4 separate regions of the Homo sapiens genome follow, and regions 1, 2 and 4 are each linked to region 3. The links come from fine-mapping of genetic effects on gene expression. A gene starts in region 3. Each other region holds a variant in brackets. All regions are shown on one strand. Distances are between the middles of the regions.

The links. PIP is the estimated chance that this variant, and not a neighbour inherited with it, causes the effect.
Region 1: its variant is fine-mapped to the expression of HS2ST1 in whole blood (TOPMed, PIP above 0.99).
Region 2: its variant is fine-mapped to the expression of HS2ST1 in whole blood (TOPMed, PIP 0.92).
Region 4: its variant is fine-mapped to the expression of HS2ST1 in monocytes after R848 (Quach 2016, PIP 0.95).

Annotation. Positions count from the first base shown.
Region 1 is chr1:86,795,643-86,803,910 of GRCh38, reverse strand. No RefSeq gene overlaps it. Among named protein-coding and RNA genes, the nearest start is that of SH3GLB1, 95 kb to the right of the region's middle. The variant T/A (reference allele first, on the strand shown) is at 5,049.
Region 2 is chr1:87,105,890-87,114,157 of GRCh38, reverse strand. It overlaps HS2ST1 (heparan sulfate 2-O-sulfotransferase 1), which reads right to left. Exons shown (of 7, transcript NM_012262.4): 7 at 4,176-8,268. Among named protein-coding and RNA genes, the nearest start is that of LINC01140, 20 kb to the left of the region's middle. The variant C/T (reference allele first, on the strand shown) is at 3,360.
Region 3 is chr1:86,910,108-86,918,375 of GRCh38, reverse strand. HS2ST1 (heparan sulfate 2-O-sulfotransferase 1) reads right to left here and starts at 3,741. Exons shown (of 7, transcript NM_012262.4): 1 at 3,216-3,741. The coding sequence starts at 3,339. SELENOF (selenoprotein F) reads left to right here and starts at 4,250. Exons shown (of 5, transcript NM_004261.5): 1 at 4,250-4,348. The coding sequence starts at 4,265. RefSeq lists enhancers at 4,001-4,120, 4,171-4,330, 3,724-4,338, 4,441-4,490, 4,339-4,953.
Region 4 is chr1:87,072,043-87,080,310 of GRCh38, reverse strand. It overlaps HS2ST1 (heparan sulfate 2-O-sulfotransferase 1), which reads right to left. Exons shown (of 7, transcript NM_012262.4): 2 at 7,139-7,377. Among named protein-coding and RNA genes, the nearest start is that of LINC01140, 54 kb to the left of the region's middle. The variant TG/G (reference allele first, on the strand shown) is at 4,207.

The sequences.
Region 1 (8,268 bases), 110 kb after region 3:
AGAAAGGGAGTTCCTAACCTCTGGAGGACCCCCATTAAATACCACAAGGAAATCACAGAGTTATTGCACACAGTGCAAAAACCCAAGGATTTGGCAGTCTTACACTGCCAAAGCCATCAAAAAGGGGAAGGAGAAGGGAGAACAGCAGCATAAGCAGCTAGCAGAGTCAGGGAAAGACCAGCAGAAAGGAAAGAGAGAAAGAGACAGAGAAAAAAGAGAGGAAGAAACAGAGAGACAAAGAGAAGGAGTCAAAGAGAGAGACAGAGAACGCGAGAGAAAGACATAGAAAGTCAAAGAAAGAGAGGAAAAGACAGACAAAGAGGGAGTGAGAAAGTGAAAGATGAATAAGTCAAAGAGAAAGAAAGGGAGATGGAAGTAGTAAAGAAAAAACAGTATACCGTATTCCTTTAAAAGCCAGGGTAAATTTAAAACCTATAATTGATAATTGAAGGTCTTCTCTGTGACCCTATAACACTCCAATACCACCTTGTTAGTGTAAACAAGGGGGTAGCCCGAAAGCACTGAGGCCACTGACAACCCGTAGCCTTCCTATCAAAAATCCTTAACCCAGCAGGTTTCCTAACAGGGGATCTAAATCTGAAGGTCCGACCAGACAGAGGAGGAACTCCCTTTAGGACAGGAGGATAGATGGTTCCTCCTGGGCGATTAAGGAAAAAAGACACAATGGGTATTCAGTAAATGTTAAGGAAACTCTTGTAGAAGCAGAGTTAGGAAAATTGCCTAATAATTGGTCTGCTCAAATGTGTGAGTTGTTTGCACTAAACCAAATCTTAAAGTACTTACAGAATCAGGAAGGAGACATCTATACCAATTCTAAGTTAATATGGACTGAATGAGGTTTTATTAATAGCAAAGAAAAATTAAAATTCCAAACTTACAAGGTTTTCTACTAAAGTAGAGTTTGCTAAAAGTTAACAGTGTAACATGCATTATCTTACTACCACACACTCTCAAAGGCTTTCTCAGACAGTTTGCAAGAAATAATGAAATCTATCCTTACTCTACAATCCCAAATAGATTCTTTGGCAGCAGTGACTCTCCAAAACCATTGAGGCCTAGACCTCCTCACTGCTGAGAAAGGAGGACTCTGAACCTTCTTAGGGGAAGAGTGTTCTTTTTACATTAACCAGTCAGGGATAGTATGAGATGCTGCCCAGCAATTACAGGAAAAGGCTTCTGAAATCAGAAAACACCTTTCACAATTCTTATACCAACCTCTGGAGTTGGGCAACATGGCTTCTCCCCTTTCTAGGTCCCGTGGTAGCCATCTTGCTATTACTTGCCTTCAGGCCCTGTGTTTTTAACCTCCTTGTCAAATTTGTTTCCCCTAGAATTAAGGCCATCAAGCTACAGATGGTCTTACAAATGGAACCCCAAATGAGTTCAACTAACAACTTCTACTGAGGACCCCTGGACCAACCCACTGGCCCTTCCACTGGCTTAAAGAGTTCCCCTCTGGAGGACACTACAACTGCAGGGCCCCTTCTTCACCCCTATCCAGCAGGAAGTAGCTAGAGCGGTCATCAGCCAAATTCCCAACAGCAGTTGGGGTGTCCTGTTTAGGGGGGGATTAAGAGGTGAAGCTGGCTGGGCTTCTGGGTCAAGTGGGGACTTGGAGAACTTTTCTGTCTAGCTAAAGGATTGTAAACACACCAATCAGCACTCTGTGTCTAGCTAGTTGGGTGGGGACTTGGAGAACTTTTGTGTCTAGCTAAAGGTTTGTAAATGCACCAATCAGCACTCTGTGTCTAGCTAAAGGTTTGTAAATGCACCAATCAGCACTCTGTCAAAACAGACCAATCAGCTCTCTGTAAAATGGACCAATCAGCAGGGTGTAGGGATGTAGGTGGGGCCAAATAAAGGAGCAGGCCACCCTAGCCAGCAGCGGCAACCCACTCGGGTCCCCTTCCACGCTGTGTAAGTTTTGTTCTTTCACTCTTTGCAATAAATCTTGCTGCTGCTCACTCTTTGGGTCCACACTAACTTTATGAGCTGTAACACTCACTGTGAAGGTCTGCAGCTTCACTCCTGAAGCCAGCAAGACCATGAACCCACCAGGAGGAACAAACAACTCCAGACGGGCCACCTTTAAGGGCTGTAACACTCACCGTGAAGATCTGCAGATTCAGTCCTGAAGTCAGTGAGACCACAAACCCACCAGAATGAAAAAACTCCGGACACACCATCTTTAAGAACTGTAACACTCACTGTGAGGATCCACGGCTTCATTCTTGAAGTCAGCGAGACCAAGAACCCACCAATTCTAGACACAACATGACTGCATAAGATACAGTACCAAATGGGTGTCACGAAACCATGAAAACCATAGGAAAGATAGAAAAGAATGCTATAAGCTACTCTGGGAAAGGCACTGTGTCCTGCATCCCTTCTCTCTTATTTCTGTTAAGCAGGGCGAGGCCTCCTTAAGAGCATGGTCTCTGGAGTCAGATTGCATAGACTTAATTCCCAGCTTGTCTTAAATCCCACTTAAATTGCATAGACTTAAATTCCATTTGCTAGTTTTGTGGTCTTGGGCTAGTAACTTTTCTGCACCTTAATTTTCTGATCTGTAAAGTAGGTATAAAAAGACAGTAATTAGCGCTGGGCACTGCGGCTCATGCCTGTAATCCTAGCACTTTGGGAGGCCGAGGCAGGTGGATCACGAGGTCAGGAGTTCAAGACAAGCCTGGCCAGGATGGTGAAACCTTGTCTCTACTAAAAATACAAAAATTAGCTGGGCGTGGTGGCACATGCCTGTAATCCCAGCTACTCAGGAGGCTGAGGCAGAGAATTGCTTGAACCCGGGAGGCGGAGGTTTCAGTGAGCCAAGATGGCGCCACTGCACTCCAGCCTGGGTGATAGAGCGAGAGTCCATCAGCAAAACAAAACAAAACAGTAATTACTTTTTCTTCTTGTGAGAATTGAATGAGTGAATACAATAGTGCCTGGTACATAATCAGTATGCAATAAGTATTCACTATGACCTTGATTCAATAAACAATTTTTGAATACCTATGATGTATCAAACACTGTGTTTGAGATACAACAATAACGAATAAAACATAATCTTTGTCCTTAAGGAGGTTACAACTTTCAATGAAAGATACAAACTAGTGAACAGGCCATTGAAGCATGTGGTAAATGAGCACAAGAAGGATGTATTAGTTAAGACTTTGGCTTAGAGAAACAAAAAACAACTGAGCTCTCTTAAACAAAAGAGAGGAGTTAAAAAAATAAAAATGTAGCAGTATGTCAAATAGGACTATTATAGAACCAGGAACTGGAGAGCCACTGGGAGCCCCAGAAGTAGTCTTTCTCTGCTGGTGGGCTGCATTTTTCTCTGCAGCCTGGCCTCATGCTTCTTTGTCCCCACAGAGGGATATGACCATCCCACAGCTCATTCCTGGGTTTACATGTTGAAGCCTGACCAGGAGGCTGGATGGCCTGCCCCTATGCCAAATTCTTGGGGAGGGGAATCTAATTTGTCCCCCTTCAATGAAGGGTTTAACCCTTGTCTAATTGGCAAGGTCATAGTAAAAACATGGCTCTGGGGCCAGTGACTGTAAATTGGGGGAGTGGGCAAGTGAGGCTCAGTTCTTAAAGAAGGAGGTGTGGCTCATGGGCTAATTAGATACTTCCAAAGGTGTCAACTCCAGGAGGGACTCTAACCCAGCCTTGAGTCAGAGGACGCTTCCTACAGGAATTCATGCCTAGGCTAAGACTTTGAAGACTAATGAGAATTAACAGATGAAGGGATGAGAAGAGCATATTCCTGTAATTGTGAGAAGCATGAGTAGAGAGAAGGGGGCATCTCTGGACATCTCCAGGGAGGCCAGGGACAAGAGATGAGCCTGGAAAAATGAGCAGAAGGTAGATCACAAAGGGTCTTTTAAGCTTTACCATGTTAGGACTTTGCTGTGAGTTCTGAGGGAATGTATTAAAGATTTTAAAAGATAACTCGCTTTTCTTTACAACATTGACACCATCAAATGTTTTGTTGGACAAATTATTCTGGGAACCATATGAGAATATGTTGGGGTTGGGGAAAATGGAGGCATCGAGGTAATTTAGGTGAGAGGGGGTGTTGGTGGTCTGAACTAAGGTAGTAATAATAATAAGAAGAAAAAAGTTATGTTGATCTTAGGACACCCACATTACACAGTGCCTGATTTATATTAGGATTTTTGTTGAGTGATAGCAACTTAGAAATCAGATAAACTGGAGTGGCTCCCTCTAGTTCAGATATTTCTTGTTGCTTTGGTGATCAATGGCACTAGAACAGAGGAAGGGCTGGTAAATTCTGGCTGCAGGTCAGCACCGCTGAAAGATGTATTAAAGGCTCTTTCTCCCACTGCCATTTGTAACTCTTTGCATCCCTCGATGTGCCAGGAAACTTCAGCTCTGTAACTCAGGAAGGAGAGAAGAGTTATGGTTGAGGGCCAGGTTGAGAGGAGCAGGAGAAAGAAAGAGAGGAGGTGGGGGAGAAAAAAAAGGAGCAGAAGGAGAAGAAGCGGGAGGAGGAGTGCTGAATGGTATAGATGGTATAGATCTCCTTCCCATCTTGGTCTCTTTGGTTAGAAGAAACTAAAGGAATTATTTTCTAGTGATTCTCTGTGAAACTTGGGAGGGGGTGAGGCTGATGACAGCTACTCACAGAAAATGGTGTGGGAGCCAGGCAGAAGAACAGGGTAGCTGCTGTGGGCACCTGCAGCTGACAGTGTTGCATGGGCCTACATGGAGTTCCCATTTCAGAAATACCTGGGGAGAGAGGAAGGGGACTTAAGGGGAAATCCTGAGTTCTGGTTGCAGTGTATGTGTTTGCATATGTGCATGTAGCAATGCAAAGAAGGTGGCGTGGGAGATCATGCCCTTGTGATTTGGGTAGAACTCTGAGGAACCCTCATTTTCTAGTTATAGGCTGGAGGCTTGGTTTTTGACCCAGATAATCTGGTGTTCAGGAAACAAATAGAGAACATCCTGAGCAAGAATTTGAGTTGAAGTAGTTTTAATTTTGTGCCCATGTCACT[T/A]GAGGGGAGGTATTTTTGCTCACTCTCTGAGTGCACAGGACATAGTACCATGCCGGTGTGGCCTCAGTGTGGATCTTCAGAGGCCTCAGAGCAGCACAGCTGAGCTGGACCATTCATAAAGTTCCCCCAGGCTCACAATGGGGCTTTTTAGCAACCCAGGAACATGGAAGTTTCTCTTTTATAAATCTGATGGTGTGGTCCATAGTCTTCCTTCTTTTTTGGTATCTAGAAGTCCTCCTTTTTTTTTTTTTTTTTTGAGATGGAATCTTGCTCTGTTGCCCAGGCTGGAGTGCAGTGGCACAATCTCGAGTCACTGAGTTCAAGCAATTCTCCTGCCTCATAGTCTTCCTTCCTTTTTTTTTTTTGGGTATCTAGAAGTCCTCCTTTTTTTTTTTTAGATGAAATCTCGCTCTGTTGCCCAGGCTGGAGTGCAGTGGCACGATCTCCGCCTCCTGGGTTCAAGCAATTCTCCTGCCTCAGCCTCTCGAGTAGCTGAGATTACAGGCATCCGCCACCATGCCTAGCTAATTTTTGTTTTTTGTTTTTTTGGGACAGAGTCTTGCTCTGTCGCCAGGCCGGAGTGCAGTGGCGCGATCTTGGCTCATTGCAACCTCCGCCTCCCAGGTTCAAGCAATTCTCCTGCCTCAGCATCCCGAGTAGCTGGGATTACAGGCGCCCACCACCACGCCCAGCTAATTTTTGTATTTTTAGTAGAGACGGGTTTTCACCATGTTGGCCAAGATGGTCTCAATCTCTTGACCTCGTGATCTGCCCGCCTCGGCCTCCCAAAGTGCTGGGATTATAGGTGTGAGCCATGGTACCAGGCCAAGAAATCCTCTTGTAAGGTGAAAAAAAATATATATATATTTTATTATATATATTATATATTTATTATACATATCATATATTATATATATTTTATTATATATTATATATATTATATATTATATATTTTTTATTATATATTATATATTTTTTAGTATATATATTATATATTATATTATATATTATATATTTTATTATATATATTATATATCATATATTTTATTATATATATTATATATCATATATATTTTATTATATATATTATATATTATATATTTTATTATATATATTATATATTATATATATTTTATTATATATATTATATATTATATATATTATTATATATTATATATTATATATTTTATTATATATAATATATTATATATTTTATTATATATAATATATTATATATTTTATTATATATAATATATTATATATTTTATTATATATAATATATTATATATTTTATTATATATAATATATTATATATTTTATTATATATAATATATTATATATTTTATTATATATTATATATTATATATTTTATTATATATTATATATTATATATTTATTATATATTATATATTATGTATATTTTATTATACATTATATATTATGTATATTTTATTATATATATTATATATTATATATTTTATATATAATATATTATATATATTATATATTATATATATTATATTTTATATATATTATATATATATTTTATATATATATAATATATATATATTTTTGAGATGAAGTCTCGCTCTTGTCCCCCAGGCTAGAGTGCGATGGTGTGATCTAGGCTCACTGCAACCTCCGCCTCCTGGGTTCAAGCAATTCTCCTGCCTCTGCCCTCTGAGTAGCTGGGATTACAGGAGCCTGCCACCACGCCTGGCTAGTTTTTTGTATTTTTAGTAGAGATGGGGTTTTACCATGTTGGCCAGGCTGGTCTCGAATTCCTGACCTCAGGTGGTCCACCTGCCTCGGCCTCCCAAGGTGCTGGGATTAGAGGTGTGAGTCACCGTGCCAGGCCATTTTTTTTTTTTAAACCATGTTAAATCAATACTTTTGAAAATAATTTAGGATTTAGGCCAATACTTTGTAAAGGCTTCTATTTAATTATAAAAAGTTCTAAATGTACCTTAAAGAAGACACAATGAAATATTTGACCAATAATTTCCATTCATGTTGCAAAAAGATCATTTACCATCTTATATAGTTAATACATTTACTTCTGATGGCAAATGTACTACTCAAGACCCCTCAAGTGTCTGGAAATAGAGATTTCTTTTAGAAAAGCAGCTGCCTTGTGCTCTGAGTACTTTGCAGTTGACTAATTGTGAGGAAAGGTCCTTTGATGAAGAATCAAATCTGGATATTTTATCATAGAAAAAAGAGTTAAAAAAGAGTTCCTAGGCTGGGCGTGGTGACTCATGCCTGTAATCCCAGCACTTTGGGAGGCTGAGGCAGATGGATCACCTGAGGTCGGGAGTTTGAGACCAGCCTGACCAACTTGGAGAAACCCTGTCTATATTAAAAATACAAAAATTAGCCGGGCGTGGTAGTGCATGCCTGTAATCCCAGCTACTCGGGAGGTTGAGGCAGGAGAATCGCTTGCAACTGGGAGGTGAAGGTTGCAGTGAGCCGAGATTATGCCATTGCACTCCAGCCTGGGCAACAAGAGCGAAATTCCATCAAAAAAAAAAAAGAGTTATTTTGTTTCATGAGGAAGTTGATGCATTGAACTTGGGTTCTGTGACCTTGAGTATAACATTATTTCCCACTAAATGCAAATGTTTTATTTTGTTTGTTTTTTTAAAAAGGTCTTGAGTATCCTGTCTATATCCCTTGGATGCTACCATTTCAGAAAATGCCAAGATTTCCCGTGGCTTATGTCTGTCTCTTCATGCACAAGAACTTTCTCCAGCACTGAGAAAAGTTGCCATGTAGGTGGCAGGAAGTGCTGGGGAATTGATACTACCCAGGAGCAGTCTTCAATTAATACTTATAGGAATTGGTGTATAAATATCCCAGCTCCCCCAGTTTTGAGTGGGATAATTCTGACACACATATTTTCTACTCTGTCTTGCAGTTTCCCTGTGGATTGAGCTGCATCGCTGCCCAGGATGGTAGCAGGCTTAATGACCACCCTTTGGTGGCTGCCTGCTATTCCCTCTGTCATTTCCTTACTTCCCTTCTAGTAGTCCCTGCACCTCTAAAATAAGCTATTCTACTCAAATCTATGTCCTAGGGTTTACTTCTTGGGAAACCAAACTAAGACAGACTCATTTGTTTAAAATGGGATCATTCTGCTATTTCATATTCTGTTACATGCTGATAGAGTATCAAGGCATAATTTCCAAACTGCTATAAAGATAATTCTCATACAAATAGA
Region 2 (8,268 bases), 200 kb before region 3:
CATCTGTAAAATGGGGCTGCTAGTAGTACCTTCCTCAGAGGATTAAGAGGATGAAATGAGGCCAGCCATGGGGGCTCAAGCGTGTAATCTTAGCACTTTGGGAGGCTGAGTCTTGAGCCCATGAGTTCGAGGCTGCAGTGAGCCATGGTTGTGCCACTGCACTCCAGCATGGGTGACAGAGTGAGATCCTCTTTCTCTTAAAAAAAAAGGGGGGATGAAATGAGTGTTAACAAATGCATAGCACTTGGTACAGTGCCGGCACATAAGAAGTACACTATACATGGGCAACAATCTTCCTCTTTCAAAAAGAATGTGTTGAGGAAATGCATTGCACCCGAAGGCTCAGTCCACTGCCCTGCTGATCTCTCAGTGTGTGTGGAAGGAAGCCTATAAGCATTGCTATGCACGAAGATCAGTTCTGATTTCCCTGGAAGTCCCTTGAGCTATCGACTAACCCTTGGTCTGGGCTCTTGCTTCTAGGAGAAAAAAAAATGCAGATATAATTTGTGAGAAACAAGTGGGCACTTCTGTTTAAGCTGCATGACTGGAAGAGTTCACACGTGACCACAGACTAAGAATCTCGGCTGGGAAGCACTGCCAATGATGACAGCAACAGGGATTTCCAAGTAGCCACAAGTATTCCCACACTACGTCAACCCATGGCTCCACAGATATTGCCAAGCCAGGGCAAGGAGCCCTCTTGCCATTAAATCCATCACAGTAAACTATTAAGTATGACCAAAGAACACTGGGACCAGAAAGTCCAGATGAAATGCACTTAGTTTGGGTAGCCATTTTGGATTCTCGGCTCTGTCCCTGAATTTCCTGAGCACACTAGTAGCCACGCTGAGGTTTAGCCCCCACATTCACCTCACACAGAAAACAGAAACTCATTAGAAGGGGTGGCATTGTTTGCCTTACTCCAGAAGAGCACATTGGGACTTTTTTCTTCTTATTGACCTGCTCTGTGGTCCCCCAAAACGATATTTCAGAGAGGAATTTACCAATAATGAAATATATAAGATACACTATAGTTTATAACGCAGTCCAATGTAGAAAACAGATGGTGTTGGAGCCAGACTGACCTGGGTTCACATCCTAGTTCACAACTTTTGTTATGAGAAGCCTTAGGTTACTTAACCAGCTAGGTTAAGCTCAACTAGAGCTTCAGTCGTCTCATCTGTAAACTGGTGCTCTAGACCAGTGGTTCTTAACTTTAGTCTTGGTCAGAACCACCTGAAAGCTTATTAATAAACATAGTGCTAGGTCCTACTCAGAAGGCTAGGGCCTAAGAATCTGCCTTTCAACAAGTTCCTAGGGGATGCTGACACTATTGGTCCAGAGATGGGATTATAGCCTAAGAACCACTGCAATTGTTTAATCTGTATTACAGCCCTTGCTGACTTTGAGAGACAGGCACATATCAGGAAGGGCATCAGGGTTTGATGGACTAGGAATCTTGAGGGCTGGGGAGCCCATCTTCCACCTCCTAGCTGTGTCAGTTTCAACTGTAAAACGAGGATAATGGTATCTACCCTTCCACGTGAGAATCTAATGAGAGGATAAATGTGAAATGAAAGCGCCTTGTAAATTATAAAGTTCTAAACAGTTGTAAAGGATTGAATATGAGGATTACTGAAAGGTTAAGCTCATGGTGCAGAGAGAGCCTGTAGTGCAGTGCCTGGCAAACAGTGGGGGCTCAATAAATACTAAATGTAGAAAAAAAAACCCACAAAAGTAAAATTTGCCACTGACTCCATGCCAGAGATTTCAGTCTTTGTCATATATTAAAATAAGAAAAGGTAATAAAGTTGTAACACATGAAGTTCACATTTCAATCGTGGGTGGCAAGGACCTCCTTCCTGGATTCTGATCCAATATTATTCAAATCTCCACTACTTAATGTGGAACTACTGTGGATCTTGATAAGAGGAAAAGGCTGGGCTCTGTTTCCACTTTGCTCTTGGCAGTCCTCAGGCCTCCAGTATAACTTTCTTAGAAAATGAATAGGGCTGGCTCCCAGAGAGACTAATCTAATCTCATCTTGTCCACTCAGAAGATCCGTATCAAACATTACAGACTGTCTGACTGCAGGACTACAGCAGGAAGGAGCATCTAATTCCATCTGGATTTGGATCAGTGATTAAACGATCAAGTAGAGAGCCATTAGCATGGTAGAAATAGAAAAGCAAAATATAACTGGCCTATTTCTTAAACATTGTTCTCATCTAAGGTGTTATTCAAAGAGCCCCCACATGAAACAAAGAGCAAGCCTGCGAGAGAGGAGTTTAAAGTCCACAGCCTCCTTTAAAAACAGACATGAATGGATCAACATGCTGCATTTTTACTGTTTATGGGCATGACAGTCTGATCAGATAACCATGCTATGCCAAGAGACCTAATTAGTAATCCTCTGGCGAATTTTAAATTACTTTTAAAGGAAAAAAAATATGTCTCTGGTAACTCTTGGTTGAATAAAATGTCACTCATTTCTGATCATCCATTTTCAGAAAGGCTCTGCCCGCTTCAAATGGAATTACTGGTGAATTCAGTTACGCAGAAAAGGTATATTTCAGCTAATCAATTTTGAGAGATCCAACAGTTTCAAACACCTAAGACTGAAACCTCTACATTGTTTTTTTTTACAGCACAACCTGGCTGCCTTATCAAGAGGGCACCCAGAATCATCAAAATGGGTACAAATGAAATGTTATTGCCACAGGCACTTTAAATACATCTCTCAAGATGCTACATGAAATACCCAGATTTAGGGCAAATTGGCTCACATTTGTGAAAGCAAAACAAAGTTCAGAAACCAGATCACTTGGGGACTGTAGGTCTACTCTTTGCCAGATTTTAACATTTAATTAGATACAGGTTAAAGCTTTGATAGTTTAAGGCGGCACATGCTTAAAAAATCACAAATTAGCAAGTTTGACAGTTCTTTGATGTTAAATTTCTACTAAGAGACTGAGTGATTTTAAACTGGAAAGAAAGGAGAGCGGAGGGAGAGGGAGAAAGAAAAGAATGAACTGATTCTAGAATCCCAGAATAATCACTCTTCGATCTGCTGCTCAGGGACAGAAATTTCTTAACATTCTTACAGTTCAAAATACTTATGTTGTCTGTTTCATGGAGGGCGTATTTAGCAAGAAAACCTAGACAGGGGTCAGTTACTGCACTTACAGCTCATCCTCTTCCTTTTCCAGCATCACCGATAGACAGGCTGAAGGCTCTAGAAATCTAGTTGCCCACACCCTTGATCTAAAAGAAAATTAATCCATATACGTTTTCTCTATTTCCCTGTAAACGCTGTCAGTGCTAATGATGTGAAACATTTCCAGGCATGACTTTCATTT[C/T]TAAACTTCAGGTTTAGAGAAGTAGAGGTAGAGGCTTAGAGTTGATGTGTTTTATTAGACGCCTTCATCATCAAACCAGAGAACATCAGAAAAGTTTCTAGGGGGTTCTTTCTAAACTCTAACCCAGGTCACAAAATCTGGAAGAGCAAAAGAGGCAAGGAAGCCAAACATCTGATAGGGAGACAGTGAATTCTTTCTTTGTGATCCTATGTTCTTTGGGAAAACACTAGTCTGTTTTATAAGCTTTGACACAGGAAGTAATCATCATTGCCTAATTGAGGCAAAAGCAAGGGGTGCTGAAAATTTGCACAGATGCATTGTGTTACAAACCCAAGTTAATGCCTTCATTCCCCATTTATTGATTATATCCCACCTGTCACCAAATGTTGGCGTTTCTGGCCCTGAGATCTGTCTGCTTCTCCCCAACCTTATCTCTACTTTTCTTGACAACTGCAGTCAGGTCCTCAGAGGTTTTCATGTTCTCAGTTTTTAGCTTGAGAGCCTATTCCTTACACTGCTGCTGTCCTTTCTGTTCAAAGAGTGCAAATCATTTCATTCCTGTGATCCTGAATTTTATGTGTGTACTATTTAGCAGTCCTTACTGTTCAAATATACTAAGATATGAACTCAGTCATTTCTGGAATAAGCAAGTCCTATCTTCTTTAGAACAGTCAGCGTTTCCCCCCTTTAATCTGTACAAATGAGTGATTTGTATGTGGAAAGAACAGCAAGAATCAGAACCAGGAATATTTATGCTACAGGTACATAAGTGAGGCGGTATTAAGATAATCAGTAAAAAGTACAGTCATTCAAAAATATTTATAAAAATATCATTTATGAAATGACAAAACCAGTATTCTGCAGGGTGAGAACGGCACATCAGCTTGGTAACAATATTCCAGCACAGCATATAAATGCCATCAGTTATTAGTCTACCCTGGCCAGTACTTTGCATACATCATGCCCAACCTTTACAACAATCCTGTTATGTCCATTTACTGACATCACATTGCTAAATGCAGATCCCTTTGATTCTCAAGCCATGCTCTTTGTTCAGCCACTGCAAGTACAAACCAAATTCTGTTAAGAAAACTCATCATTGAACTGGTATTTTATCAACCCAATATCATATAATATAAATAGAATCAATCAAGCATTGCTCAAAGCAATGAGCCAGTGGCTAAGAATTGAAAATCAATGGAATTGAGACTTTCTTCTTTAAGGGGGAAAAAAAAAATCAGAAATGTGTGTTCCCAAAAAAAATTATGGATATGTCCAAACTGTGCCATAAATGTTAGATTAAGTTACTTTCAAATTTTTTTAATTCTAATAGCCCTTTCTCTATTTTTTTCTTCTAATTAAGTATATATTTTGTAAGTTTTCCATCTGAAATTTTATTACCAGCAATGAAGTACAAAGCAAAAGCAGCAGAGGCATGTCAGTCCAGATAAAATATTGTCACAAGCCATAAAATCATTAGAAACCAATGATGTTGCATGCTTTCTTGATGGCAACACTATCTGAGAGTTAAGTTGACACTGAACACTGAGTCAGCTTGGAAAATGTCCATCAGTGTCAAGGCTACAAAAGAAAATATTAAAACAGGACACCAATTTTTCCCCTTCCCACTGTTTATTTTATAGCTTTTGCATCAGGTAGTCAACTGAAACACTTCAACATCAGAAAGCTGGCAGAATGTTAAGGAAAAGGAGTGATTATCTCTCCAACAGATGTGACAAAATGGTTTCAAGTTGGAAACAGAATTTGCATAAATGAATCAACTGAATGGAGTGGGGGAGGGCAGGGAGAGAGAAGAGAGAAAGTAGTGAGCATCTTCCAACAGGACTATGAGGGAAAAAAAAGGCACTGTTGAGCTGTGTATTTATAAAATAAAAGTCAAAATACACAATCCATGTTTCCGAAAATTACATTCAACACTGCTTCAGAGATGCTCACATACCTGACTCTCAATAGAAAGCTACAAAAACTGTCTAAAAAATGAGATAGACAGCATCAATGTCTCAACACAGGCTTAACAGTAATGCGTTCTAAAGAGTTCATCACCATCAGGGTCCATTTTATAAATAGTACTGCAAAGGCCACAAAGCTGCATGAAATTACAGGATAAATCTGACTAAATGATCATTCATTTCAATCTCTAAAATTCCTGCTCCAAGAAATCAGAAAGCTCCACTCCAGAGGAGCTGAATTGGCAGTGGATTTGAAACAGGGTTGCTTTTCTCCTCAGAAGGCTGCCTAAAGAGTAGTTTAGTTGGCATCATACAGCAACTTTGCATAGGGTAAACGGATGCAAAAACATAACAGCAACTTCTCTGCTTCCTCTGAAAGTAAACAGCACTAATTTATGAAGAGGCCAACTCAAATCATAAAGGAGAAGCACCTGGGCCTCTTAAAGGCAAACCACATAAAAGGTTACAGGGTGCTTCTCTTAAGGATTCTAGGACCATAGGTGTGTTTGGGAATGACCAATGGAAAAATCCAGTTAGATGATTTACACAGATGTTCTCTATGTAGATTTGAATTTAAATTAAAATGCCAGCTATGCATTTGGGAACCAGCTTTTAGTTAAATTCTCTAGCACTTTTAGAATTATTTGATTTTATTAAAAAAGAATCATTGTCTACAAACTGTTTTCTAACAATGCAAATACAGTAAGCAAGTCATCTGCAATATCAAAATATTGTTTGTAAATCACTGATGGCACCAACGATTTGAGGAATTTCCAATAGGACACATATTGAGAAAAAGCAACAGATTATAGGCATTAACCAAATTTTAAGATCAGAAAATTATAAAAATCATTAAGTTTAAATTATCCAATTTTCAATAGCTTAAATCCAATCATCAGGAATTCAGAAGCACCCAATATGTTTGAAGTTGCACAAATGCATATGGATGATAGGAAAGTAATCCCCATGCAATATCTTAAGTGTTGCTATCAGATATATTTAAGTGCTACTTTACAGATTAAGCTGGGTAAAATCAAAATATATTTTACTTCCCATTAGATTTTAAAACAATCACAATAATTTATCAACAGTTGCCATTTCACAGCAATTAGAAAAGAGGAGTTGATACAAGTTGAACAGAAAGGTATCTTTTCTTCTTTTAGGAAATAAACATATATATATATATGTATATATATTTCACATACACACATAACATTATCTTTAAAATTCCAAGTGGTTACTTTTGTATTATAAAAAAATTATCTCCCTATGGTCAAAATACTGAAAAAGCGCAAAGGCTGAAAAAAGAAAACCACATTTGCCACTTTAAAAAAATACATTATTGTCTCAGTGGTTCTATTTATTTAATTGATTATAAAGTATTATGACTCCTAGTACTGTACTGGACCTGATGGAATTAAATACACCCCTTTCTCAGTCTCCAGAAAGGATACTCCTAACCCACCCTAAAATATGATAAAATAAATGCCCCTATTCTGAACTGTTAAACTGGGAAATAAACCATGCCCACCTGGAAACAATATAAGTCATAAAAGTTTATGAATCTGTGGGAGAGACTACACGAATCAGAAAGCAATTCTTTGGATATAAGTTAGGAGCTTTTAGAAGTATATAAACTCTTTTAGGCATCTAGAGTAGAGACACAAAGAGGATTTCTCCATAAATAATGATTTGGCCAGTGCAATGGTTGGTTGCCCATGGTCTGCATCTGGGATGTCATCTGTTTTTGTAAATAAAGTTTTATTGGAACATAACTGTGCTCATTTGTTTACATAATGTCTATTGCTGCTTTTGTGGTAAAATGGCAGGGTTGACTAGCTGTGACAGAGACCGTATGGGCTGCAAAGCCTAAAATATTTACTCTCTGGCCCTTCCACAGAAAGTTTACTGACCTCCTGATCTAGTTCACCAAGTACTGCTCTAGTTACCTAAAAGAGTTAATGCACCTCAAGAAGATTTGAGCATGTGGTGCAAGAATAACTTGCATACTGGGTTTGTTCATTAGCATGTAATGTCAAACCACACCTTGAAGTGGTGCTTTATTTTGGGCGAGGAAATAATTTGTATACACTTTCAGGAAATACCTATAAAAGTCAATTTGAAAAAAGGAAAGAAAAAAGCCAAATTTAAAAAAAGCCTGCCTATGTTCTTTTAATATTTTTATATTATTGTGAGGAAAGGGTGCTAAGATGATTGTTCTGTCATTCTTTTAGTTTTTCTTTAGTTTATAAATGTTTCTTTTGTTTATAAATGTTTTCTCATAAGAAGTGTTCCCTCATGCCCTCCCATAACCTTTAAGGCAATCTACCTAAAATGCTTACAGTATGGTGAAGCCTTATTCAGAAATATTTACTTAAACCATAGGTATAGAATAGCTACCATTTCTGAATAATAATGTAAAATGAAAACAGAAACAGCTTTCAAATTTGAAGAGAAAAGTTTCCCTGACCCTAGTCAGCTAACAAAGCCTATTTCTAACAGTGAACTTCCTGAACTCAAGCAGCTGCTCATGAAGCTTTAAGAGTTCACAGGCATTTCATATTTCAATAGTTGTTGAAACATGGAAGATAAAACACTGAGAGGATATTTATCAAACACAAATTTATATCAAGATTAACTTTTTCAACCAGCTTACAAGCAGACTTTTCCCTTTCTTTGTTAAAAAATGAATGGTATGAAACTATATGTTAAAGATGTTTCTATAATACCTTACATTTACATAGCGCTTTACAATTTTCAAAGTGCTTTCACATGCCATCTCATTTAATCCTCACAACAGCCCTGTGAGGTAGGTACAGCAGGTATTATTATCCTCATTTCAAGATGAGGAAATTGAGGCAAAGAGAGGTTAAGTGACTTGCCCAAGATCACACAGCTGTAAGTGCTAGAGCTAGGACCTGAAATCAAGTTTTTTGACT
Region 3 (8,268 bases):
TTAATAGAATGAGTAAGTCACATCTATATGTACTGACCTGGAAAGATGTGTATAACATTCAAGGCAAAAAAAGCAAGCCGCATTGTAATATGTGGACTACAATGCCATATTTGTTTTTTAAAAAATAAAAATAAAAAGCTGTATTACTGAATTTTTTTTTTTAGGAATTCCTAATTAGTGAATTTCCCAAGTAGTCAATGAGTACACCTCAGTTTTGAATACATCTATTGCTCTATTAGAAGTCTCACCATCAAAATACTGTACTCTCAAATCAAGGTATATTAAAGCCACTATCAGACAATACTATCCTTTGGAATCTTCTACAATGAAAATGATAATAACTACTTTTAAGGACAAAATGTTTAATAGGTTTTTTATGCCAAAATAAAAATGCTTTTTTAACATTGTGATTTTGCACGTATGGAAAACAGCTAGATTTTTCTTTCCTATAGTAAAAATAAGCTATCTAATTCAGTTGTTTCATTGGGTAACATAATTATGTTCATTACATGAATCTAAACAAGGGGCAGACGTTACATTAAACCAATTCCTTTGTATCAGAAATTCAATTTTCTCTGAATGATATTCATTCTTAGCAATAAATGCAATTAAACACTGATATTACAATTTTAAAACTCTATTCAAATACCTAAATCTCAGCGTAATGTCAATATAAAGTCTTAAGCAGCCGGACATAATTAAAGGAGCACTTGATTTGGAATCATACATACCTGGGTTGCAATCCTGGCTCTGCCACTTAAATGCGATGTGGTCTTGGGCAAGTTATATAACCTCTCTAAGCCTGTTCCTGCATCTGCAAAAATGGCTTTCTGTTGTTCTTTGGTTTTTTTTTTTTTGAGACTGAGTCTCACTCTATTGCCCAGGCTGGAGTGCAGTGGTGTGATCTTGGCTTACTGCAATCTCTGCCTCCCAGGTTCAAGCGGTTCTCATGCCTTAGCCTCCTGAGTAGGTGGGATTACAGGCGCCCGCCACCCCGCCCGACTAATTTTTGTATTTTTAGTAGAGATAGGGTTTCACCATGTTGGCGAGGCTGGTCTCGAACTCCTGACCTCAAATGATCCGCCGGCCTCGGCCTCCCAAAGTGCTGGGATTACAGGCGTGAGCCACCGTGTCTGGTCAAAAATGGCTTTAAATGGTGTTCTTACTTTAAACACGAGTATCTACGATGAAAAGTGCCTAGTACAGAATATGGTTGTCAAAATATGGTTTCCTCTGCTAGGCATGGTAACACCCACCTGTACTCCCAGGTATACCCATCTGTAGTCCCAGGAGGATTTTGATGCATATTTACTACTTTTTATGAAATTTTCTTTCTTGTATCACAAGAAAGCACTTTATATTTTAACTGTGGCATTATACATCTTCAGATAACTTTCTTTTAAAAATCATTCAGATTGTGTCTATGGAAGCAATTTTCAAGTATATGGGGAAAGAAATGTTAGGAAAGGAGGAAAATCAAAAATTTAAGTCATTCTAACCCACTGTAACGTGTCTAAGAAATCAACTCCAGACAATTCCAAATAGTAACAAAACAAAAAATAAGTACAAATTTTAATTTTAATATAACTTTCCACTTCAAGAGGAGTCTTTTTTTCTGTAGAGCTGGATCATTAATAACGCCAGAATATGACCCTGAATGTCGCTAAATGGATCCAAAAGAAAAGAAAAACCAGACTGGATAACCTTCAATATTTAAAGTGGACATTTTTTTCCACCACACAAGATACATATTAATAAAGGAATTCGTAAATAAACTGAGTATCTCTTCAAATTTTACTCTAGAATTGAGGGCTGGAAGTAACTCTAGTTTTCCTCCAACTTTAGTTGCACTTCACTCAGATTTACTTGATGGTTTTTCTTTCAAGGCTCTTTAAAATGTCAAGGCTTTTGCAAAGCCTTGTACCAAAATAGCTACTATACATAATATTACAATTATTTTCTGGTACATTTTTCCTAAAAATTAATCATCCACTCACAGTAACATCTATTTCTTAGTCTAAATTACACTGCTGAGGGTTTTTTGTTTTTGTTTTTGCTGGCTTCTCAAAAGGTATTTAAAATGATTTTGAGGTGAGAGTATGCAAAAAACACTTCACATTACTTTTCCATATTCAAATTACATCCTCTTGAGCTGATTTTTAAGTGCCATGTACATTTTTAAATCAAAATTTATCACTGTCATTCTTTTAACTCTCGCTCTCCATGCTGAGCTCTTCCAAATGCCAAAGTGCCCTATTAATCCGAAAGTACCTATTATCTGTGCTTTTTTCTGGCCTGTCTTTCACAACTTCACACCAACTTTTTGTACTTTAGACCCCCTCATCCATTAAAGCACCTGTTAACCCTTTAAGGTATTTAACCATATGGTTAGCTTTCCGCATAATCCTACTTTTCCTTTAACAAACACAAACTTCACTACATAATTCCCCTTCAGCGTTCCCTCCTCTTCGAAATTCACATCAACACTGCCGTGAAGCAACATACATAGGCATCCCTATTCTCAAGCCCCAATTCATCAGTTTAGCGCCACTAAAGAAGAATTTAAATCTCCGGACCCTCATTTCCGTACTCCGATGAAGCTTTGCACTCGCGTTCCCGCACTACCCGGCCAGCCTCCCTCAGCTGGCAATTACAAGGTCCTTTGCTGCCCGGAGCACAAGAGTGCAACTCGCTACAGTGTTCACATGTTGCTCTCCGTCATCCCAGCATCTCCTCCCATTTCTGCGCACCTATCCCTTCATGAGCCCCCAAAAGAATTCGTATCCAGATGCCCATAGCTCAAATTAGAATACCCCTCATCTGACATTGCCAGGGCTTCCTGTACGACTTCCAAGAGAACACGCGATGCTAAGCGCTTCTGTCTCCGGAGACCAGCAACACACGCTCCCCACTGAGTTCGGTCTTCTCTCTCGCTCTCTCTCCGCGGAATGCCTACTTCGGGGCTACCCTTTGGCTAGGGAAGCCCAACCTTGCAACCTCTGCCCCGTGACCTCGCGAGCCCAGCACGCCGCTCAAGCTTAATTCAACCCATTCTTGGAGCTCGTGCTCTCGCTGCCCCTTGTTCCCGGTTCTCTTTGAAACCGCTTTCAGCCCCCGAGCCAGACCCCAGGTTAGATGAACGCCCACTTGCTCCGGCGGCAGCGCCTCCTCGGCCCCTTCCACAGCACTCAGCCCGGGGCAGTTCAGTTCCTCACCTAGCTTCGAGCGGGACTCCTCCAGTTTCTGGATCTGGTTTTCCAAGAAGAGCATCGCCACCGCGAAGGCCACCACCGCCAGCAGCTGCAACTTGGGCGGCATCATAATCCTGAGGAGCCCCATGAAACCCGCTGCTCGGGATCAAGACATACCGCGGGGGGCGGGGAGCGGGACCCCGGAGGCGAGAGAGACGCCGGGAGGAGCCCGCCGAGCCGGGAGCGAGGCAAAGAGAGAGCGACAGCGAGAGAACCACCGCAGCGACCCCCCTTCTCGCCTCTCCAGTCCCCCTCCCCCAGGCGCTATCACCAACGCCGCTGGTGTCCGCTTCTCCTCAGCCGACTAAACGGCCGCCCCCTCCAAAAGCCCGCGCAGCAAACAGCGCGAAGCGGCTGCCGGGCTCTCGCCTCCCTCTACTGCCTCAGTCCCCGACCCCCGCGCCCGCCTGCTTGCCCGCCTCCCTCTCTTCCTTCCTTCCCTCCCTCCTTTGCTCGCGGCCGCGCGCCCCTCCACCGGCGCTGCGGCTGCGCCGCCCTCATCCCCGCCCCCGCCCATCCCCCTCCGCCACCACGCGCACGCATCCGCGTACGCTGCTCGGCAACCAGAAGCCCCGCCCCTCCCCCCGTTCGGGTCCGCTTATTGGACGGAAGAGCCCCTGCGCTTCGCTCTTGGTTCGGTTTACGGTTGGTTTCCTCTGCCACAGAGCTCAATCAAGACGACATTCAATTGGGTAAACTTGGAGAAGAAGGCGGGGCTAAAACTGGCGAAGGCGTGGCTTCTTGGCTGCTTGACGAAGTGTCGTGAATAAAAGAAAGGAGACCGCAGAAGTAAAGAAGTGGGGAGTTTAGGCAAGTGCCTGATTTGGGTAATCGAAAGCACCCAGTGATTGTATTTGATGACTTTTAAGCTTTCATATGCCGTTATTTAATACCTGTCACTTCCAAATGAGAGATGTAAGGGCAACGGCCGTTAGCGTTCTGTTTTGGATCAGGCTCTGGAGTGGACGCCCCTAGCTTAGGGGTCCTTCTAGGCAGCCAGAAACCTGCGGAAAATGGTAGCGATGGCGGCTGGGCCGAGTGGGTGTCTGGTGCCGGCGTTTGGGCTACGGTTGTTGTTGGCGACTGTGCTTCAAGCGGTGAGTGTAGATCACCTTCGCAGCTGCCACAGGGAGAGTAGGAGTGATTGCAGCTGAGAAAGACGCAACATTCGGTCCTGGTTGAAAAGGGTGGGGAGGACTGCGCTTCCTTAATGACTGCTGCGGCCAGAATGCAACGTGGCTTAATTTCTCGGTTGATCCTTCTCCTTCCCCGCCTTGGGTTTCTAGCAGCAGTTTTCTCTTGATTTCAGATTGTCTTGGGTACGTAGCTTCTCTTATACGGCTCTTGCTAAAAACAATCTGTAAACCACACCAGGTGGGAGGGGGGAATAATAAAGCTTGGCAAGAAGTGGAGGTTGTTTTTAAATGGACAGAAATGCAAGAGACTCATGACGAGACTTCCAACTCTTAGAGGCAAGTCTTCAAGTCGTTGGTCCAGGCGAACAGTTTGTGTTTACCTCTCTCGCGCGCGTGCTCTCTCATTTTCACTACTTCTGTTAGTCTCTTAACTTCCGTTCTCCTCTGCTATTCATATACGGCTGGCTGCGCTTGAGTGCGATTTGTGCTTTTAAACAATGTTGTTGGAGTAAAAGGAGTTATCTATACCAAAGTATAATTCATTTTTGAAGTTAGTTTTTTAAATGATGTTCGTTGTCTTCTTTAAGGCAGCGTTTTTTATTTCATTTTTCTCTATTGGCAGAATAGATGGGTGACCTTTGAATGGGAAAAGTGTACTTTTAACTTATTTCTTCTCATATCCATGTTCTGCTGTGTGAATAGTAAAATTTTAGGCACAGTGCTGAAAGCTTTTACGTTTTTTTATCCTAGCTTAATTCTTCGGGTAGTCTCTAATAAGGAGACCTGGTTTAATTTACTTATCCAAGGTTGAGGGTGTTAAGGGACTACACCGGAGTCCTCTATGAACACCTGTACTTACCTTTCTCAAAGAGCTTGAAAGCATCCTGGCTGTTTGCTTTGGCTACTTTAACCAAAAGGTAGATTCTTAACTTCTGTAATTAACATTCCAATTATCTTGTTATTCAGGCATTTGGTGCTAGGAATTACTGGATCACCTCTCCCTAAACTTTCTACTGTTTAAGGGTTTTTGCACATCTTTAGGTCATTCGAGATAACATTTCAGGTTGTCTTTTTTTGATCTCCCTCTGTCTTTGACTGTCAGTTGTCTATAGCTGTGTAACCGCCCTAAAACCTAGTAGCTTAAAACAGCAATGATTTCTCATAATTCTGGGTCAGTGGAGTAGAACTACTCCACCTATGTTGGTTTTCCCCTGGCCTCATTTATGCTTTTTGTTGACCTAGTAGGTCAGCTAAACCGAAAGGTTCCAGGATTACCACTGTTTATAGTTGGTGCTGTCAGCTCGAGGACTTGGTTCTGTTCCGTGTGACCTCTCATCCTCCAGTCGGCTAGACCAACTTCTTTTCATGGCACTCTCAGGGCAGCACTCCAAAAGAGCAAAAGCTACAATGCCTTCTAAAGCCTTGCCTTGGAAATCACATATATTACTTCCATCACATATTTCTCAAAGCAAGTCACAAGACTAGTTCACATTCAGGGATGGAGAAATAGATTTCATCTCTACATGGGAGGAATGACAGAGTCACTTTGCAAAGTGTGCATACCAGGATAGGAGGTATTTATGGAATTAACTAATTCCATATGTAATAATGATAGGAATTAATTAAACAGCGTACCACAGTGACTGTGCACAGAATCCAAACTAGAAATTTGGATGTCATGTTTGACTCCTTTCCTTACATATATCATATCCAGGGAATTACTGAAACTTACTGATTTTAATTCCTAAGTATCTCAAATCCATCCACTTATTGTTAATCACTCAGGCCATAAACATCTCTCTCCTCAGAAATAACAGCGTCTTGGTTCACCGTTTGAATTATCCCTGGCTGTATTCAGAATCTAAATGGTTGGCTTTGCCTTTGTCAGCTTCCCAATTGCCCAAGCCAAAAATTAGTCATTTTTGGCCAGTTGTGGTGGCTCATTCCAGTGCACTTTGGGAGGCTGAGGTGGGCAAATCACCTGAGGTCAGGAGTTCAAGACTAGTCTGGCCAACACGGTGAAACCCCGTCTCTAGTAAAAATATAAAAATTAGCTGGGCGTGGTGGCGCATGCCTACTCGGGAGGCTGAGGCAGGAGAATCACTTGAACCCAGGAGGCGGAGGTTGCACTGAGCCGAGATTGCACCATTGCACTCCAGTCTGGGTAACAGAGCAGGACTCTGTCTCAAAAAAAAAAAAAAAAATAGTCATTTTAAATCCTCTTTCCTTTCACTGTCTGAATTCAATTAGTCGTTAAAGCCTTAAAAATCTCTAAGCCAGTCCACTTAATAATTTTGTTTCCACAGTTAGTATTTATATTCAGGCTACTATCTTTGCCTAGAATTACAACAGCTTCCTTAACTAGTCTCCCATCTCATTATTTCATTTCCAATCTCTACAGTGCATCAAGTGATCTGCCTAAAATTTAAATCTGTCATGATTAAAACTCTTCAGTGGCTGCTTATTGTTTTTTAAGGTGAAGTCTGTCTTCCTCAATGTTCCTTAAGGAGGCACTTGTTTGTCTATCCAGGCTTATTCCCCAACATTTACTTCTATTAGGAGAGCAGAAAGGTACAAGTGGAGAATTGGCATCACTTGTTTAGCTTATTTCACATACTGTATTCTCCCTCACCAGACCTTTGAGCATGGTGTTTTCATTACCTACAAGCCGCTTCCCAGCGTCTCATCCTTTCCTCCCTTTCTCCTACCCTACAACAAAAATGGCTGTCTTCTACTTACTCTCTTTCTGTTCTTAGTAGAGAAATCACTTCCTCCAACAAAGCTTCGCTATCCCTCAAGTTTGGATTAAGAGTCTTTCTGTGTGCTCCAGTGGTGATCAATATTTATTCTCTGAGATACGTTCCATAGTTTTCTTTAATAATTTCTTGTTCTTTGGCATTCTCCTACCCACTCCCAAAGGGAAGTACCCTGTCTTTCCTGTTGACTGTTTTATCTCTAGTGACACATATACAGAGTAGTACTATACTTGATGTATAAGTGAAATGTTTGATGAATGAATTAGAGAATCCACAAGCAAAGGTCTGAAAACCTGGAAGTATGAAATCTGTTTGGAAACTATTAAAATCAGCTTCAGTTACCTTCATAGAGCTCTATTATCAGTGATCCCAACTGGAGGTGTGTAGATGAAAATTGTTGGGAGGAGGAGAGATTAAAAAATACATGTGCTTGGACTCTGCCTTAGATATGATTCAAAAATTTGTGGTAGCTGTGCAACTCTAGCTGGTAAGTACATGTTAGACTGAAACCTTTTTTTTTTTTTTTTTTTGATATGGAGTCTTGCTCTGTTGCCAGGCTGGAGTGCGGTGGCATCATCTCGGCTCACTGCAACCTCTGCCTCCCGGGATCAAGCCAGTCTCCTGCCTCAGCCTCCCAAGTAGCTGGGATTACAGGTGCACGCCACCACGCACAGCTAATTTTTGTATTTTTAGTAGAGACGGGGTTTCACCATGTTGGCCAGGATGGTCTTGATCTCTTGACCTCATGATCTGCCTGCCTCAGCCTCCCAAAGTGCTGGGATTACAGGCGTGAGCCACCGCGCCCAGCCAGACTGAAACCTTTTGAGGCAGGAATCAACTTACTCATTTTTTTGTGAATGTGACCCCCACAGGATGGAACATCCTAACTTACCATCAAATAAAACTACTGGGTGATCAGCCACAGCCACACCATTCCACCAAATATTCCCAAAGACAGCCATCATACACAGCCTTTTTCTCTCAAACTCTGCCTATTGAATTCATACTCATGACGTATAATTTAGTGGGAAGTACACTACTTTAACGAAATGTATTTTTTAGTTTTAACTTCTAATAACTGACTAAGGCAAATTAATTTACTCTTGGCCTTTGTTTCTTTATCTC
Region 4 (8,268 bases), 160 kb before region 3:
AACTTCCCATTCACCCTGATCACTACTCTCTTTACCGGACAACCATTTTAACAATAACCCTTGACGTTTGTTCCCTTGTCTTTTTATTATCTTGGGTAACCACTGGGATTGCTGAGTACTCCTGGTTGAAACCAAGAGACTACATCTAAATATCTATGTAGGATTTTGAATTTTACTTCCTAAATCCATGCTATCTGAGGTAAATTCAGGTGATTATTATTGCTTTAAAATTCTCTAGAATCTATTTGTTTTTTCTTTCTTGAGACAGAATCTCATTCTGTCACTCATGCCGGACAGCACAGTGGCATGATCATAACTCACTGTAACCTCTAACTCCTGGGCTCAAGTGGTCCTCCCACCTCAGCCTCCCAAGTAGCCAGCACTGCAGGAGTACACCACCATGCCAAGCCAAGATTTAAAGAAAAAAAAAATTTTTTTTTTTTTTTGTAGAGTTGTTACCAGGGCTGTTCTTAAACTCCTGGGCTCAAGTGATCCTCCCACCTCAGCCTCCCAGAATCCCAAAGTGCTCACAGGCCTGAGCCACTGTGCCTGGCCTCTACTATTGTTAAAGTCCTCAAAACACACAGAATCTCTTTCTAAGCTCAAACTAAAAGCATACTAAAGGCTAGACATGTAATATATCTGGCATACGTATTTTTCTTTCATCTCATCAGCATTTAACTAAGGCAATATGTTAAAGTTTCATTAACATAGCTGTGGCCGATTTAAAATTTACAATGAATCAAAAGATGCTGAACTGAGGTTTACCTTCTCTTTATGACGAAGAAAAAAGTGTGAAGCAAATAAATGATGTCAGTATGGCTAACATGGTTCACACTAATCTAGAAAACAGTCTGAGCATTTGAAAGTGTTGGCCAGGTGCAGTGGCTCACGCCTATAATCCTAGCACTTTGGAAAGCCGAGGCGGGTGGACTTCCTGAGCTCAGGGGTTTGAGACCAGCCAAGGCAACATGGTAAAACCCCGTCCCTACTAAAATACAAAAAATTAGCCAGGCGTGGTGGCTCATGCCTGTAATCCTAGCTACACGGGAGGCTGAGACAGGAGAATCGCTTGGACCCGGGAGGTGGAGGTTGCAGTGAGCCTAGATCGCACCACTGCACTCCAGCCTGGTCCAGCCTGGGCGACCGAGCAAGGCTGTGTCTCAAAAAAAAAAAAAGTATCATTTACATACTGCTGAAATTCCATATTATCTTTATCTCCTCTTCAAAACTGTTCTCCAAGGAAATAATATGAGTAACTCCCTTTGAAAAACAGTACTTTTAAAAGTTTTATTTTTAAAGTATTAATTCGGCCACTTCTCCTTTTACAGTTTAATATTTATCCTTAGTTCTCCAGAACTTTCCTGGTCTCTACTCTTTCACCTTCATCTTTTCTCTCTCATCAGTCTAGTCCCAGTTCTGCTCTATCATGATCTGCCTTCTCACCTCCCTGCACCACTTGCTTTGTCTTTCAGTTTGTTTTCTTCTGGTATTTCTCTTGGGCATGCTGCCTAAGACCTTGAGACAAGGTTTGAAAATACAGAGGAGTAAGAAGAGGACACTGAGATTAGGTAAGCAAACTTCTACTCAGTTCACTTTATGGATTCTTACTGACTATACTTGGCACAAATGAAAGGTAAAGTGATAGGCCAAAAAAGGAGCAAAACTTAATAGTATCAATTGAAGTTAAGGAGACTGAAGACACTGAAAACTCTGGCTTGGGGAGAAGAAATAAGGCCACTACAGTGACTTTAGTCATAGAAAATTTTCATACTCTGACTGAAATATGCTACCAAGAAGAATGTTTCAGATGTAGTAGTCAGATATAGTACATGAAACGCAGCTAGCCTGAAGCAGAGTGTAAACCGTGATTTTTGTTGGATTTGATGACTCAAGTCAGGCTAGCAAGTAATAAGAAGAGACCTTAAGGAAAAACACAAACAATATAGGTAATGGTGTTGGGGTTTTTTGTTAGTTGAATCAGACCTAAACTGATGTTACAGGAAAAAGCTAAGAAGCACCCTTCTCACTAACAGTAGTGTCTTGACCTATATTCTTAATAGATCAACCTCAATATTATGATTATCTGTGATAACAAAAGCATTTGTTTTCACTATCTAAAAGAGCAGGAATGTCATCCTGAACATTCTGGCCAAATTCCAACTCTGTAATTACTATCTGTTGAATGAATGCTACTATTAACTTGAGTAATTACTATCTACCAAACTCCCACTCATGCATTTACTTAAACATTTCTTGTATGGCTGTGGGTACTTTTATGAGACTAAGCCAGGGAGAAAGTTTTCTACACTCACAGGAAAACAAAGTAGTGGTTGGATAAAAATATAAGAAAAGTTTGCAGTAATTGAACATATCTTCACTGAAGTTCAGAGCTGTGCTGTTCAACCTGTTTTAGGAGTGTAGGGCAGGGGGCTGGTTCCCAATCCACCTGAGAGATAAGAATAGATCATACTGCTGTCAATCAGAGGTGCTCACTCTGCCAGTAATTATTATCATCTACCGCTATCAAAATCTATGTTGGTCCATTTGTTCATTCATTCATCATTTATTTAACAAAAAATGTATAGTTTCTACTATGTCTCAGGCACTATTCTAAACATAAGGGATATAGTAGTGAACAAGACAGACAAGGTTCCTATCCTTAAAGATCTTATAATAGAGGAAAAGACAGGCAGTAAACAAACCAATATATAAGATAAGTTAGTAAGCTGATTAGTACCAGAGAAGACACAACAAGAGTGATACAGTACACAGTAACTTAGAAGAGGTAATTAATATGTAGGATGGCCAGGCATGGTTTTTCTAAGAGGATGTCATTAAACCTTAAATGGATAACATGAAGCCAACTCTGGAAGAAGCCAGGAGAAGTGCATTCTAAGAGGAAAGGATAAGTGCGGAGGCCTTAAAATGGGAAAGGCTTGGCGTATTCAATGAAACACAAGGCCAGTGTGGCTAGTGGGTAAGAAGTTGGTGCACACAAGGGCTAGATTAAAAAGGGCCTCTTGGTCTATGTAAGAAATGTGGATTTTGTAGGGGAGGTAGGAATAACAATTTAAAGATAAGTACCCTACCATCCTGGGAAGACTAAAGTATTCATCTTCCCATATCCCTACTGAGAATCATCATCTGTATCTTTGTTACTCAAACTGCAGTTTAAAGACCAGCGGCATTAATTTTGGCATCCAGTGGGAGTTGTTTAAAAATTGAAAACTGGGCTCCATCTTGGTCCTTCTGAATCTGAATCTGCATTTTAACCAGTGATTAGCATACACATTATAGGTGGAGAAAATTCATCTAAAGTGCTGCTCTGAAAAGTATCTGCAACTCCTGGTGAACTGTGGGCTCTAACGCAGATAACCTAAAGTTGGCTTGAGAGTGAATTTCAAAAAGAAAAAAATTCATGTTGTTCTTCAGAGAATACAAATTCTAGGTATTTCCAATGTTTTAACAAAAGGGGTTATATATAATCATAGACCTAAACATATGAGAGCAAAAAAGAATTCTTTTTTTGAAAAATCATAAAAGATGTGGCTAATCACATATATGGTATGGCTAAACACATGACAGCAAAGCAAACTCCATTTTTCAACTAGAAGAGTTGATTGATTACCTATCTCTTGCCAATTCCTCTCTATTAACTAAGTAAAGCCCATCGCAAAAATGTATCTTTAATGACTGAGTCCACACCTTATTCTAATTGCTTAGTTTCTCATACCTTATATTCTCAAATGTTTATCTTTTAATATCCTTCTTTTAACTTTTCAACTTTTTTATTTAAAAAAATTTCTAAACTACAGAAAAGATGAAAAAATAGGACAGTGAACATCTCTATACTCTTCACCTAGATTCACTAATTATTAACATTTTGTCACTTTTATCTTTTTTCTCTATGTATGCACATACATACTCAATTTTTTCTGACCTATTTGAAAGCAAATAGTTGTCATTCATATTTAACCCCTAATTACCTCAGCATGTACTATGTCTATGAACAAAGATATCATTTTTGATCAAGGATCTGATCACAGACCATACATTACATTTGGTTTCCATGTCTCTCTAGTCTAGAGAAGCCTCCCTCCAACTTTTTTGGTTGTTATGATACTGACACTTTAGAAGTCAGTTGTTCTGTAGAATATTCTACATTAATTTGTTTTCTCGGGATTAGGTCCAAATCAAACATTT[TG/G]GTAGGGAACACTTTTGGTTAAATATTTCAGTGAGATCACCACAAATTGATGTTTTATTTTAACTGTTTTCATAGCCCCTGTGTTTATGTTTTATGTTCCCAAGTAAATTTTAAATAAGCTCCTTCAAGGATGTGGCCATGCTTTCTATTTCTTTGTTATTTCCCCAAAGAATGTAGTACAACCTTTGTGTATATTACATACACAACAAATAAATGAAAAACTCAAAAGCAGAGTTGACAACTATTTCTAAGGATAGCAGAATATATATAACTATTATACATTGAGTGGTTTTATACCAGACTAAAAATATTTGGGCTTTGCCTCTAAAATTTTTGAGACAAATAATTAAGCAGGTAAACAGTTTAGAACAATACCTAATATAGTATGTACAAAAAATGTCTAGGAAAGCTGGGGCTAAAGGCAGATATCAAGCAGACTGAACTAAGATTGGAAGGTGAGGGAATAAAGAGGATGGTCAGGTAACATATCTCAAAATATTTTTATGAGTAAACTGAGCTTTACACGGAAGCTGGAGACAACAGATTTAAGAAAGATCTCATCTTTTAAGTTGTACTTGATTAGAAACTATTTCTTAGAGAAGAAAAAAGAGCAAAATAGTTCATTTAATTCTTATTTAAGCAGCTGAGAGGCCAGGCGCCTGTAATCCCAGCACTTTGGGAGGCCTAGGTGGGCGGATCACCTGAGGTCAGGAGTTTGTGACCAGCCTGACTAACACGGTGAGACTCTGTCTCTACTAAAAATACAAAAATTAGCTGGGCGTGGTGGCGCATGCCTATAATCCTCGCTACTTGGGAGGCTGAGGCAGAATTGCTTGAACGTGGGAGGCAGAGGTTGCAATGAGCCGAGATCGCACCATTGCACTCCAGCCTGGGAAGCAAGAGCAAAACCCTGTCTCCAAAAAAAAAAAAAAAAAAAAAAAAGGTAGCTGAGAACAGTACACAGAGACAACAAAATATGATATTATTAAAATAAAAGTGTGTTATATCAGATGGGGTTCAGGGAATATTTAAAAATTATTTTTAAGAAATACAGTGCAATTTTTAGTTTACATTTAGATGAAGCTTACTAGATTAAAAGTGAAGTAAACATGAAAACATGTCACACAAAAGAAGGGGAAGCAGTAAATATAACTTGTTTGAAGAACTGCGTCTACATAGAACAAGAGATCACAAAACTGGAGATAGGGTATATAAAGAACATTTGTTAAGTAAGTTACTCTTAATTAAGATCAGGTTTTGGACTACCAGCTGATAATTTTGAAGTATGTCAGCTAATGATTAAGACTATTCTTCTGCGCTGCCCCACACAAACATTTTTTAAGTGTTGGTCATTATGCAATCCAATTGCTTTTAAGATAGCATTTATGCTTCTCTCCTGCTGTTTTTTTTTTCCTATACATAACCAACAAGTTATTAAAAGAAAAACAGAAGCTTTATCTCATCCAAATGCAACTGGGAAAATATACTACTACATGATGCCTATAAATGTCATATGTGGTGAGCTCCTCCAGATTTATATTTCATGAAAATAATGGTTGATGTCATTGCCAGACATCTTGCAGTTACCAGGACTTTGTAATGCTGAACAAACAAATTAACATTATTTTTCTAAAAAGTACTACTGAATAAATCTGAAATTATTATCTAAGCATGAATACATATTCCTTTTAAACCAAAGCATATTTTGAAAAGCAGTAATGCAAAAAGATTTAAAACCTACTACACACTGTATAAAAACAGAATATTTAGGATACTTGTCCTTGAGATACACAATATTACATAATGAATAGTTTTTATGACACACATAGCTAAAAACAACTCATGTTTCTTCTCATTCATAGAAGAGTTATTTGGTTTGGCCGACAGATGTGGAATTTTGGTTCTACAAAAAAGAGTACTCCAGGATTCTGCAAAGAGCCAAAAATTACATGGGCAGATGACATACCATATACTACTAGCCTTTACAAACAGCTCTCTAGCAAGAAAGCCAACCTTAGTCTTGTGTCTCAATGTAATTCTCTTGTTTAAGTGTAAGGATTATAGTTATGCTAAATAGTGAGATGACAGTCAATTCTGTAACAAGTTCACTGCTTTCAAACAGATAAATATCATTGTAACTACAGGACCATCACAAATATCTTTCTAATAAGCCTACTCCAATTTGGTATTTGATCCTAAGTAGTATTTGCAAACATTATCTTTCCTTCTCATGGGGTGGAATTCCCATGCCCTTCCATATTTATAGAGAGAACTTTATTTATAATTGCAGTCAAAATTCCAGGTGTGGGAGAAATGTATGCTACTACTATTAAAGAGATGAGCAAATTTTATTTCATAAGATAATTTCCTCTACTTTTCTTAAAACCATTTCACAAAATTATTTATTCATCTGTTTATCTAAAACTTCGTGAGAATTTAAAAGGTAAGATTATGTTGAAGAAGCCACAACTAAACTATATATACATTTATAAGCAATGTATATATAAACTCTCTCTGTATCTATCTCTATCTCTATCTAGTAAAGAGGGGCTGGTCACAAAATTGAATACAAGTATCCATCAAATATTTCTCCATCATAAGTTGAGACAATAATTTTTATTGCAGGGTATCATGCCAAAATTATATTTTTAAAAGGATACTATGCTCAGGAACATCAGTTTTCTCAAAAATTCAAGCTATTCATTAATTCATTTACTTCACAAATATTTGAGTACATACTATATGCAAGGAAATGTGTCAAATACTGTCAAGTAAAATTATACAAAAGTTAGCTGGCCCTCTCCCCTAAAAGGCTTATGATCCACTGAGATCAGCACTCACATCCCTTTAAAATACTTTATCCCCTTGAGCTAGAAAATTTGAGTGAGGAAGTATTAGAAAATATTTGGGCATTCCTTAAGTGGTAATTACCTGATCTTGCAATGACATCACTGGATTATTTTTGGTAGTGTTGATATGAAGGACATGGTATTTATTCTTTGCACACAGGTCATAGGCGATATTGGTAAATGAAGTGCTTGCCGTTTTGGGAACTCTGTTATAAATGATCACCATGTCCTCTTCCTCATCTAAAGTGGCATCTTGCCGAGGGCCATCCATTGTATGTCGCTGCTCAATTTCTCGGACTTCGTGTCTTGCAATAGCCCTTTCTGGAAAGAAAAACAGATACGAACTAAGTTTTTAAGGACACTATAAGGAAGTTATGAACACTGAACTTTGGACCATGATTAGAAAAGATACAAAAAAGAAAACAAAAAACAAAAGCAAAGAACCAAGGGATATGGAAAACATGGGTAAATTGCTTGGGTTTCTAAGAGGATCTAGTTGATTCTAAAACAGCTGTACAGCCTGGAACATAATCTTCCTATTCAAGAACTAGGTAAGAGCTGTTGAAGAAATGTTTTGAGGACCAAAGCTTCAGAATTCCTTATGAAGGATAATACATATGTATATCAAGAACAAAAAGGAATAAAGAGTCAACAAATGCAGAATAGCACAGACCACAGAGTACTTCAGTGCAGTTCAAAAGTCACTTTACATTCTAATAGAATTCCTACAGCCTGAACTAATTCTCAAACACACAAAGATTGCATGGAATACTAAACTTCACAGTATAAAAATGCACTTAAAAGAGAAATTACTTATAATTTAAGAAAAGGTTTTGAAATTTATTACCCGATTTAGTTATTCTCTGGTTTATAAAAATGTAGCAGGACAGTGATTATAAAGTGATTATAAATTATAAATTAAAAAACTGTAACAGGACAGTGATTATAAAGTGATTATAAATGCTAATATGACTTAACAAGAGTAGAAACAATATGACTTAGAAGGGTAGAAACAATACTACCATAAATCCTTTTTCTTTTTGGTGTTGCATTAGAAACTATGTTTAGCACATGGCTATGCTTTTCACTTAAATTTCATGGTTCCTCTAAAATTACCTATCTGCTATGTGGTTTCAAAAGCAGTTACATTTTGCTTTCTAGTATTCTCTATTTAATGCAAACTTCAGCTTCAAATATATATATTCAAATATC